Regions from separate parts of the Homo sapiens genome. Here region 2 is linked to region 1. Evidence: fine-mapped QTL for protein levels in blood plasma. Region 1 holds a variant in brackets. A gene starts in the other region. All regions are shown on their forward strands. Region 1 overlaps FAM193A (family with sequence similarity 193 member A). Region 2 holds the start of LRP1 (LDL receptor related protein 1).

The links. PIP is the chance, under the fine-mapping model, that this variant and not a neighbour inherited with it causes the effect. Protein levels are from antibody-based Olink assays in UK Biobank. Linkage for the fine-mapping came from a reference panel and not from the study's own genotypes, which makes the PIPs less certain.
Region 2: it holds the start of LRP1, and the variant in region 1 is fine-mapped to the plasma level of the LRP1 protein (UK Biobank, PIP above 0.99).

Annotation. Positions count from the first base shown.
Region 1 is chr4:2,608,543-2,612,924 of GRCh38, forward strand. The region is part of intron 2 of FAM193A (family with sequence similarity 193 member A); the gene reads left to right. Among named protein-coding and RNA genes, the nearest start is that of FAM193A, 74 kb to the left of the region's middle. The variant A/G (reference allele first, on the strand shown) is at 1,944.
Region 2 is chr12:57,126,371-57,130,752 of GRCh38, forward strand. LRP1 (LDL receptor related protein 1) reads left to right here and starts at 2,113. Exons shown (of 89, transcript NM_002332.3): 1 at 2,113-2,661. The coding sequence starts at 2,595. RefSeq lists an enhancer at 1,120-1,773.

The sequences.
Region 1 (4,382 bases):
AGCATATTTAGATCATGGGCGGGTCAGCAATATGCCCATGGGCTTTGCCACCAGAGTCCTGTGTCCTGGTGTGCCTCGGCACACTGTTTGCCATAGGCTTTGAGGAGAGTGTTGGTTGGTCTTAATAACATTCTATCTCGGGCCCAGAGGTAGCCCACTGAAGGAGAAATTCAGAGAAGAGAGGTGGGATGGCTGAGACATTTTTGCATAGACCTGCAAGGGGACAGGCCTGACTAAACAAATCTTGCTCCTTAATAGTCAGGACCAAGCCTGTGTTGAACTTAGCAATTTGGTTTCAGCTAATCATCGATCTCTCTCTTTAAAATAATGTTGTTAATTTGAATTTCACCTTTTTTTTTTTTTTTTGAGACAGAGTCTCACTCTGTCGCCCAGGCTGGAGTGCAGTGGTGCCATCTTGGCTCACTGCAAGCTCTGCCTCCCGGGTTCACGCCATTCTCCTGCCTCAGCCTCCCGAGTAGCTGGGACTACAGGCATCCACCACCACGGCTGGCTAATTTTTTTTGTATTTTTCATAGAGGTGGGGTTTCATCGTGTTAGCCAGAACGGTCCCAGTCTTGTGACCTTGTGATCCACCCGCCTCGGCCTTCCAAAGTGCTGGGATTACAGATCTGAGCCACCGTGCCTGGCTGAATTTCACCATTTTAAAAATATTTCACTTTAAACCACCTTGAGTTTTTACATTATATGAAGGCTAAAAGACATATTATGTTGCATTTTAACATTTGCATATGTTTAACAAAAATAGTTTTAGTCTGGTGGGAGATACGGTGAGGGGATGGCACTTTGGGGTAATTGTTTTTTCTTTAAAGGGCCCTGAACTCAAGCATCCTGTCATAAAGAAGACTACTCGGCAAGTAGTCTTAAGTTTCTATCTATTTTTCTGTTTTCAAGGCTGTTTTAGACTCCATTTTGATTATGGGCATTAGCAGTTGTCTTTATTCTCATATATCATATTATTAAAATGTAAGTTGCATTTTACACTAAGGAACTGGGTTCTCCAATAGTTATTATGCCCATAGATTAATCAAGGCATATAGTCCCAACTTAAGCCATTTAAGAGTTTGCTGGCGTAGGCCACCGTGCACGGCGGCCTAGGCCGATCACGCCTGTAATCCCGGCACTTTGGGAGGCCGAGGCGGGTGGATCATGAGGTCAGGAGATCGAGACCATCCTGGCTAACACGGTGAAACCCCGTCTCTACTAAAAATATAAAAAATCAGCTGGGTGTGGTGTTGTGCATCTGTAGTCCCAGCTACTCAGGAGGCTGAGGCAGGAGAATCCCTCTAACCCGGGAGGCTGAGGTTTCAGTGAGCTGAGATGGCGCTACAGCACTCCAGCCTAATGACAGAGCGAGACTCCGTCTTAAAAAAAAAAAAAGAGTTTGCTGGCTGGGCGCAGTGGCTCACTCCTGTAATCCCAGCATTTTGGGAGGCCGAGGCAGATGGGTCACCTGAGGTCAGGAGATTGAGACCAGCCTGGCCAACATGATGAAACCCCATCTCTACTAAAAATACAAAAATTAGTTGGGCTTGGTTGCGGGTGCCTGTAATCCCAGCTACTCAGGAGGCTGAGGCAGGAGAATCGCTTGAACCAGAGAGTTGGAGGTTGCAGTGAGCCGAGATCACGCCACTAAACTCCAGCCTGGCGACAGAGCGAGACTCTGTCTCAAAAACAAAACAAAACAAAAAAAACTCGCTAGTATTTGTCATTATCTTGAATTGTTACCCAATGGTTACTACGCCCATAGATCAATCAAGGCATATAGTCCCAACTTAAACCAGCCATTTAAGAGTTTGCTAGTATTGGTCCTTACCTTGAATGCTTGCCCTGTTGGGTTTTAGGTCATATTAGAAACGTACAGATTTCTTTGCAGTGAACTTCATGAAAGTAGTTGCTAATGTAATTTGTTGGAACTACTCAAA[A/G]TTGCCAGATTGACTTGAGTTAGCCTTACAGAAAGATAAGCTGAGTGGTGATCTTTGGCTTTTTTCCTTTAGCATAATGCTTTTGAGAGTCATCTCTGTTGTTGCATGTAGCAATAGTTAATTCCTTTTATTTCTGGGTAATAATCCATTGTATGGATAAACCACAATTTGTTTATCCATTCATCAATAGAGAGACGTTTGTATTTTCCAGTTTGGGCTGTTATGAGTAGAGCTACTAGGAACATTTGAGTATCAGTCTTTTTTTTTTTGAGATGGAGTTTCGCTCTTGTCACCCAGGCTGGAGTGCAATGGCGCGATCTCGGCTCACCGCAGCCTCCGCCTCCCAAGTTCAAGCGATTCTCCTGCCTCAGTCTCCCAAGTAGCTGAGATTACAGGCATGCACCACCACGCCCAGCTAGTTGTGTATTTTTAGTAGAGACAGGGTTTCTCCATGTTGGTCAGGCTGGTCTCAAACTTACAACCTCAGGTGATCCACTCGCCTCCGCCTCCCAAAGTGCTGGGATTACAGGCATGAGCCACCGTGCCCGGCCGAGTATCAGTCTTTTAAGTGGATGCAATTTACTTCTCTTTGATAAACACCTGGGAGTGGAATTGCTGAGTCCTATAGGGTAAGTGCTTATACTGTTCTGCAGCCACGTATGAGAGGTCCAGTTGATCTTTATCTTTGCCAAGTGCTGGATATTGGCAGTCTTTACTTACAGCCATTCTAGTGGTTTGTAGTGTTATCCTTCATTATGGTTTTAATCTGCATTTTCTATTTATTTATTTATTTATTTATTTGAGACAGAGTCTCACTGTGTCACCCAGGCTGGAGTGCAGTGGCTCAATCTCGGCTCACTGCAGCCTCCACCTCCCAGGTTCAAGCAGTTCTCTTGTCTCAGCCTCCCATGTAGCTGGGACTACAGGCGCCAGCCACCATGCATAGTTAATTTTTTTTTTGTATTTTTAGTGGAAACGGGGTTTCACCATGTTGGTCAGTCTGGTCTTGAACTCCCGACCTCAGGTGATCCACCCGCCTCAGCCTACCAAAGTGCTGGGATTACAGGCGTGAGCCACCACGCCCGGCTTAATCTGCATTTTCTTAACGACTTGTTGAGCATCTTTTCATGTACCTATTTTCCATTTGTATCTCTTTGGAAAAGTGGCTGTTCAGATCTTCTGCTCATTTTTATTGAGTTGTCTTAATGAGTTGTGAGATATTTTTATATAATCTCAATACAAGCCCTTTATTAGACAGGCTTCACAAACATTTTCTCTCAGCGTGTGACTGGCATTTTCATTATACAGCACTGTCCTCTGAAGAGCAAAAGATTTATATTTTGATCAAATCCATTTTTTTTTTTTTTTTGAGACAGTCTCTCGCTCTTTTGTCCAGGCCGGAGTGCAGTGGCACTATCTCGGCTCACTGCAAGCTCCGCCTCCCGGGTTCACACCATTCTCCTGCCTCAGCCTCCCAAGTAGCTGGGACTACAGGCGCCCACCACCATGCCCGGCTAATTTTTTGTATTTTTAGTAGAGACAGGATTTCACCGTGTTAGCCAGGATGGTCTCGTTCTCCTGACCTCGTGTTCCGTCTGTCTCGGCCTCCCAAAGTGCTGGGATTACAGGCGTGAGCCACCGCGCCCGGCTCCAATTTGTGTTTCTAAATGATTTTGTGCCTTTGTGTTCCATGTAAGAAATCTTTGCTACTCAAGGTTATAAAGATTTTTTGCCCTGGCCGGGCCGTGGCTCACGCCTGTAATCCTAGCACTTTGGGAGGCTGAGACGGGTGGGTCACGAGGTCAGGAATTTGAGACCAGCCTGACCAACATGGAGTAACCCTGTCTTTACTAAAAATACAAAAATTAGCCGAGACGGTGGCGTGCACCTGTAATCCTAGCTACTCGGGAGGCTGAGGCAGGAGAATCACTTGAACCCAGGAGGTGGAGGTTGCAGTGAGCCGAGATTGCACCACTGTACTCCAGCCTGGGTGACAGAGTGAGACTCCATCTCAAAACAACAAACAAACAAAAAAGTTTTTTTTGCTTGTTTGTTTTTTTCTGTCTTAATAGTTTTAGCATATACATTTAGGTCTATGAGCCACCTTGAATGAAGCTTTTATCTGTTGTAAGGGTTAAGAGTCATCTTTTTTTGCATACTGATATCCAGTTGTTCAGAACTATTTATTGAAAAGACAATTTTATCTCATTGAATTACCTTGGGACCTTTGTCAAAAATCAGTTGGTTCTGTATGTATGGATCTATTATTGGATGCTGTGTCCCACTTTACATATATTCCTATTCCTTTGCCAGTACCATACTATCCTGATTCTTGAAGCTATTTATAGTAAGTCATGAAATTACATAGATGTCTACCAACTTTCTTCTTTTTCAAAAGTGGTTTGGATATATTAGATCCTTTGCATTGCTATGTAAACT
Region 2 (4,382 bases), not on the chromosome of region 1:
GGTGCAGCTGAAAAATGGGGGTGTGGAGAGCATCAAGTTTCCTTTTACTTTTTACCTTCCTGTACTTTTTTTAACCACTAGGTATTATCTTTTCTTTCTTTCTTTTTTTTTTAACAATATAAAGTTAATAAAAATACACATTCACATTCAGGAGACAGCAGGGGATGGGAGGTTGCAAGTGAGAAGTGCATGCTGACTGAGGCCAGGTTTTGGAAAGCCATGACTGAAGAGGAGTTCACATTTGACTGGTCTATAGACACCCACTAGAGGTTCCCCAGCAAGGAAGAGACACCGGGAAAGCAGTTTTTGGAAGATTCACCTGACAGATGGGTAGGGGGAGGGAGGAAAGCCCCTTCAAGCCCTCAGGCTACATGTGGTTGCTCCAGATACCGTTTTCCTCTCAAAGCTGTCAAGCTGTCTAAAGTCTGTTTCGACCTGATTTCACTTGGATCCCAATACTGGGAGGGGCCCTGGGAGGAACCTCGTAGGCATTTGGTGAGTCCGCATAGTGCGTCTCACATTGTGTTGGGCCATGGGAGCTGGATAAAAGGAGAAATAAGACCCCGTTCCTGCCTGGAGCAACTCTCTGGCAGTGGAAATGGAGGAAATCTGAGATATACTTCAGAGGAAAAAAATGACAAGCCTGGAGCACAGGCTGGCAAGATTGGATATAGGAAGGAAAGGCCCCCTTGAGTTGGCATAAAGTCTGAGGTTTCTAGCCCAGGAGACTAAAGGCAGGTGGCCACCGCGCTGAGCAAAGCCGGCTGGAAGAAGCTAAAGGTTGAGCTCACTGTCATTAGGAGGCAAGTCCTTCGTGCTGCTCCTGTTTCTGCCAAGGACAGACTGGAGTGGGGACTTTTCCGTAACTAGAACGTAAAAGGGGGAACAGTCCCTCCTCTCCAGCGTCAATTTTTGGCAGCCGACGTCGTCTGCCCCGCTCCTTGAACTCTGACATGCAGACACCTAGAAAGTCAGACACTAAGGTAACAGCCATAAAACGCCGCCCAGAAGGGGGCAGTGACCAAAAGCACGTTCACTGGCCCCTGGGAACCGCCTGGCGCCTGCCTTCTGCAAAGTATCATTCCCGTGTGGGCTGAGCCTGGGGACAAAGGTCCGGCGCTCAGCAGACACCTCCTTGGAACCCGAGGCCTGGAAACGAAGGTCCAGAGTCCCTCATCTTATTCCAAATCCTGGCGCTCGGAATCTAAAACCCTAACTTGATGGCAAGCCAGTCAGAAGGTATTAAAAAAAAAAAAAAAAAAAAAAACAGAAAAATAAATGAGCCCCGACTTCTTGGGCGAAAGGGGGTGGCCTTTCCTCAACCCCACCCGCTGGTGACTCACCTCCCTCCAAACCAGGGCCTGCCCCTCCCGCGCCTAGGGCTGGGCGAGCAGGGCGGGCGGGTACTAAGGTGGGCTCCATCCCCGAGCCCCACGCGGGCGGACAAGCTCCGGCGTGTCCCCTCGGGTGTCCCTGTTTACTCCGAGCCCGGGAGCGAGGTGGGGGCGGGTCCTCGCGGTCCCTCCCCAACCCCGCCCCCTCCTTCGCAGGCCCCAATCCCAGTCCGGTCTTCCAAAGTCTCCAAATCAAAGCTCAGCCTTTCCCTGCACCTTCCCCGCGGACTGGCGGTCCCTGTCCCCACCCCGGGCAGAGGAGGCACCTTCAGGGTTCCCCTAGAAAATCGAGCCTCGGCCCAGACCACTGAGTCCCGGACGCCCCCGGAGGGAGCCTGAAATCCTAGAGTATGACACTGAGTTTCAAAGGGGAGCCGCTCAGCTCTCCGCCCACTGCCCAATCCCACCCTCGACCCCTTCTGCTCTCTGGAGCACCAGGGAGGAGGGCCCAGCCAGGGGAGAGGGCGCCCCAGGCCCCAAACTAGCCAGCGAGTCCCCGGGACCCTCACTCTTGGACCGCTTTCCAGAACTCCGAACCCTGTCGCGGGTCCGCGTCGCCCTCCCCCGGGCAGCGCGTCAAATCGGCGCATGCGCACTCACTGGATTGCCGCGTAGCTCTTTCTCCCCCCACCCACCAACCTTTTTTCTTTCCCCGCCCCTTCCCTCCCTCCCTCCTCAACCCGTCCCCTCCCTCTCCCCCATCAGCCCCCCCCTCGGCACTTCAGTCCGGGGAACAGCGGTGCGAGCTCCAGGCCCATGCACTGAGGAGGCGGAAACAAGGGGAGCCCCCAGAGCTCCATCAAGCCCCCTCCAAAGGCTCCCCTACCCGGTCCACGCCCCCCACCCCCCCTCCCCGCCTCCTCCCAATTGTGCATTTTTGCAGCCGGAGGCGGCTCCGAGATGGGGCTGTGAGCTTCGCCCGGGGAGGGGGAAAGAGCAGCGAGGAGTGAAGCGGGGGGGTGGGGTGAAGGGTTTGGATTTCGGGGCAGGGGGCGCACCCCCGTCAGCAGGCCCTCCCCAAGGGGCTCGGAACTCTACCTCTTCACCCACGCCCCTGGTGCGCTTTGCCGAAGGAAAGAATAAGAACAGAGAAGGAGGAGGGGGAAAGGAGGAAAAGGGGGACCCCCCAACTGGGGGGGGTGAAGGAGAGAAGTAGCAGGACCAGAGGGGAAGGGGCTGCTGCTTGCATCAGCCCACACCATGCTGACCCCGCCGTTGCTCCTGCTGCTGCCCCTGCTCTCAGCTCTGGTCGCGGCGGCTATCGACGGTGAGTGAGATTCCGCGTCCCCCTTGGACCCCTGGGGGCACCCTCTCCCCAGCCCCCACTCCTGCATACGGATGGGGAAGGGAGACGCGGGAGGGGGTGCCTTTTGTTATCCCAGTCCAGCTGACACAGCAGCGGCCCGACTGGGGGCGGGGATGGGGTCCGATTTGGGGGATGGGGGCCCTGGGCAAATGATGCTTCCGGGGCCCCCCAGCACAAACAAAGACCAGAGGCCTGGGTAGAGAGAAGAGGGCTCCCCATTTTTCTGATCCTGGGGAGGAGAGGCCTTCTTTTCCTATCTCTGTTCGGGGAGGGCCTCCGCCTCCCCTACATCCTCACAACCCCCCACCCCCCATCTGAATTGTGAAGGAATCCGGATTTGCAATGTTCGGCTGCAAAAGGGGGTGGGGGTGGGGGGGGTGGCTTTTGCACTGGCCTCTGTAGCTCGAAAGGGGAGCCAGGCCAGGGGTACCCTGCCGGGCAGAGGGCAGGCAGGCCCGGGAAGGCTGTGGGTGGGGAGAGGGAGGGCCCCCTGCTTGGGCGTGGAATCGACCCCAGAGCCCCGGCTGGAGGCCTGGGTGCTGAAGTAGGCTCTTCCCCCTCTCAGGGCCTCTGTCAGTAGCCTGGGGTAGGGCTGTGTTGGGGGGCAGAGAGGGGGAGCTCGCCATACTATGTGACTTTGAATTTTCCTTCTTAATTCCTGGGAGCTTTGAGATGAAAAAACGTCAGATGTCATCACTGGGGAAGGGGACTGGAGAATGGCCTGGAATGCTGGGGTAGGAGGGTGGGGGAGGCTGCCTTCTTCCTGACTTCTGGCTTCATCACAGTTTGGATTGGAAGGAGAGTTGGAGGTTGGATGGGGATTATGGCTGTGCCCCCACACTCCTTTAGTAAATCTGTTTATTCCCTGCACCCCTCCAAGCCCAAAACCCCATACACACACACTTTGTATATTGCAGAGTTAGGCTTAGGCTAGAACTGCATCCTTTTGGGGAAATGGGGTGCCTCTCTTCCCTTTTTTTGTCAGCTGTTTTTTTCTCCTACTTGTGAGTCACTGGTTCAAGTCTTGCCCAAGCTTTAAGCATTAAGCTGGGGTCATGGGGTTGGGCTGGGCTAGGTCCCTGATTTGAGAAGGGGTGGGATCTCATCCCCTCCTGTCATCTTAGCCCTCTCATCCAAAGACAAAACTGGGCTGGATACCATCATACACCCCCTCCTCTGTCTTGCCAGATTGGGATTGGGAAAGTTTTTCTCTGAAACCAGATTATCTCCCTCCCTCTCCCTAACTTGCTTCAATTGGGGGAGGAGACTTACAGGGTCAGGAAGCAGCTGTGTCCCCAAAAAACATATTTAGTGTCCCTCAGTTGTGCCATCTTGGGGACTCTCTACCCCCCACCCCCACCCCACCAATTAGCTGCCCCGGAGGAGGAGAGGGGCTTTTCCTGAATATCCTCCAGATGCCGCACAGCCGGCTTCTGCCTATAACTCCTGTCATTATCATGTGTTTTTCTCTTGTTCTCAGCCCTGTGAGGTGAGAAGGGAAATCGAGGCAGGGAGATTGGGGTTGCAGCCGCTTCTGGGAGGAATAGAAAAAAAATTTGAGAGAGAGAGAGACCCATCAGGAGCCCCTTGAAGGAGGGTGGCTAGAGTTAGGCAGAAGCAAGAGGGTTTCTGTGGAGAGCAGGGAAGGTCAGGAAGGGACCCCAGATAGCATCACTCCCAGG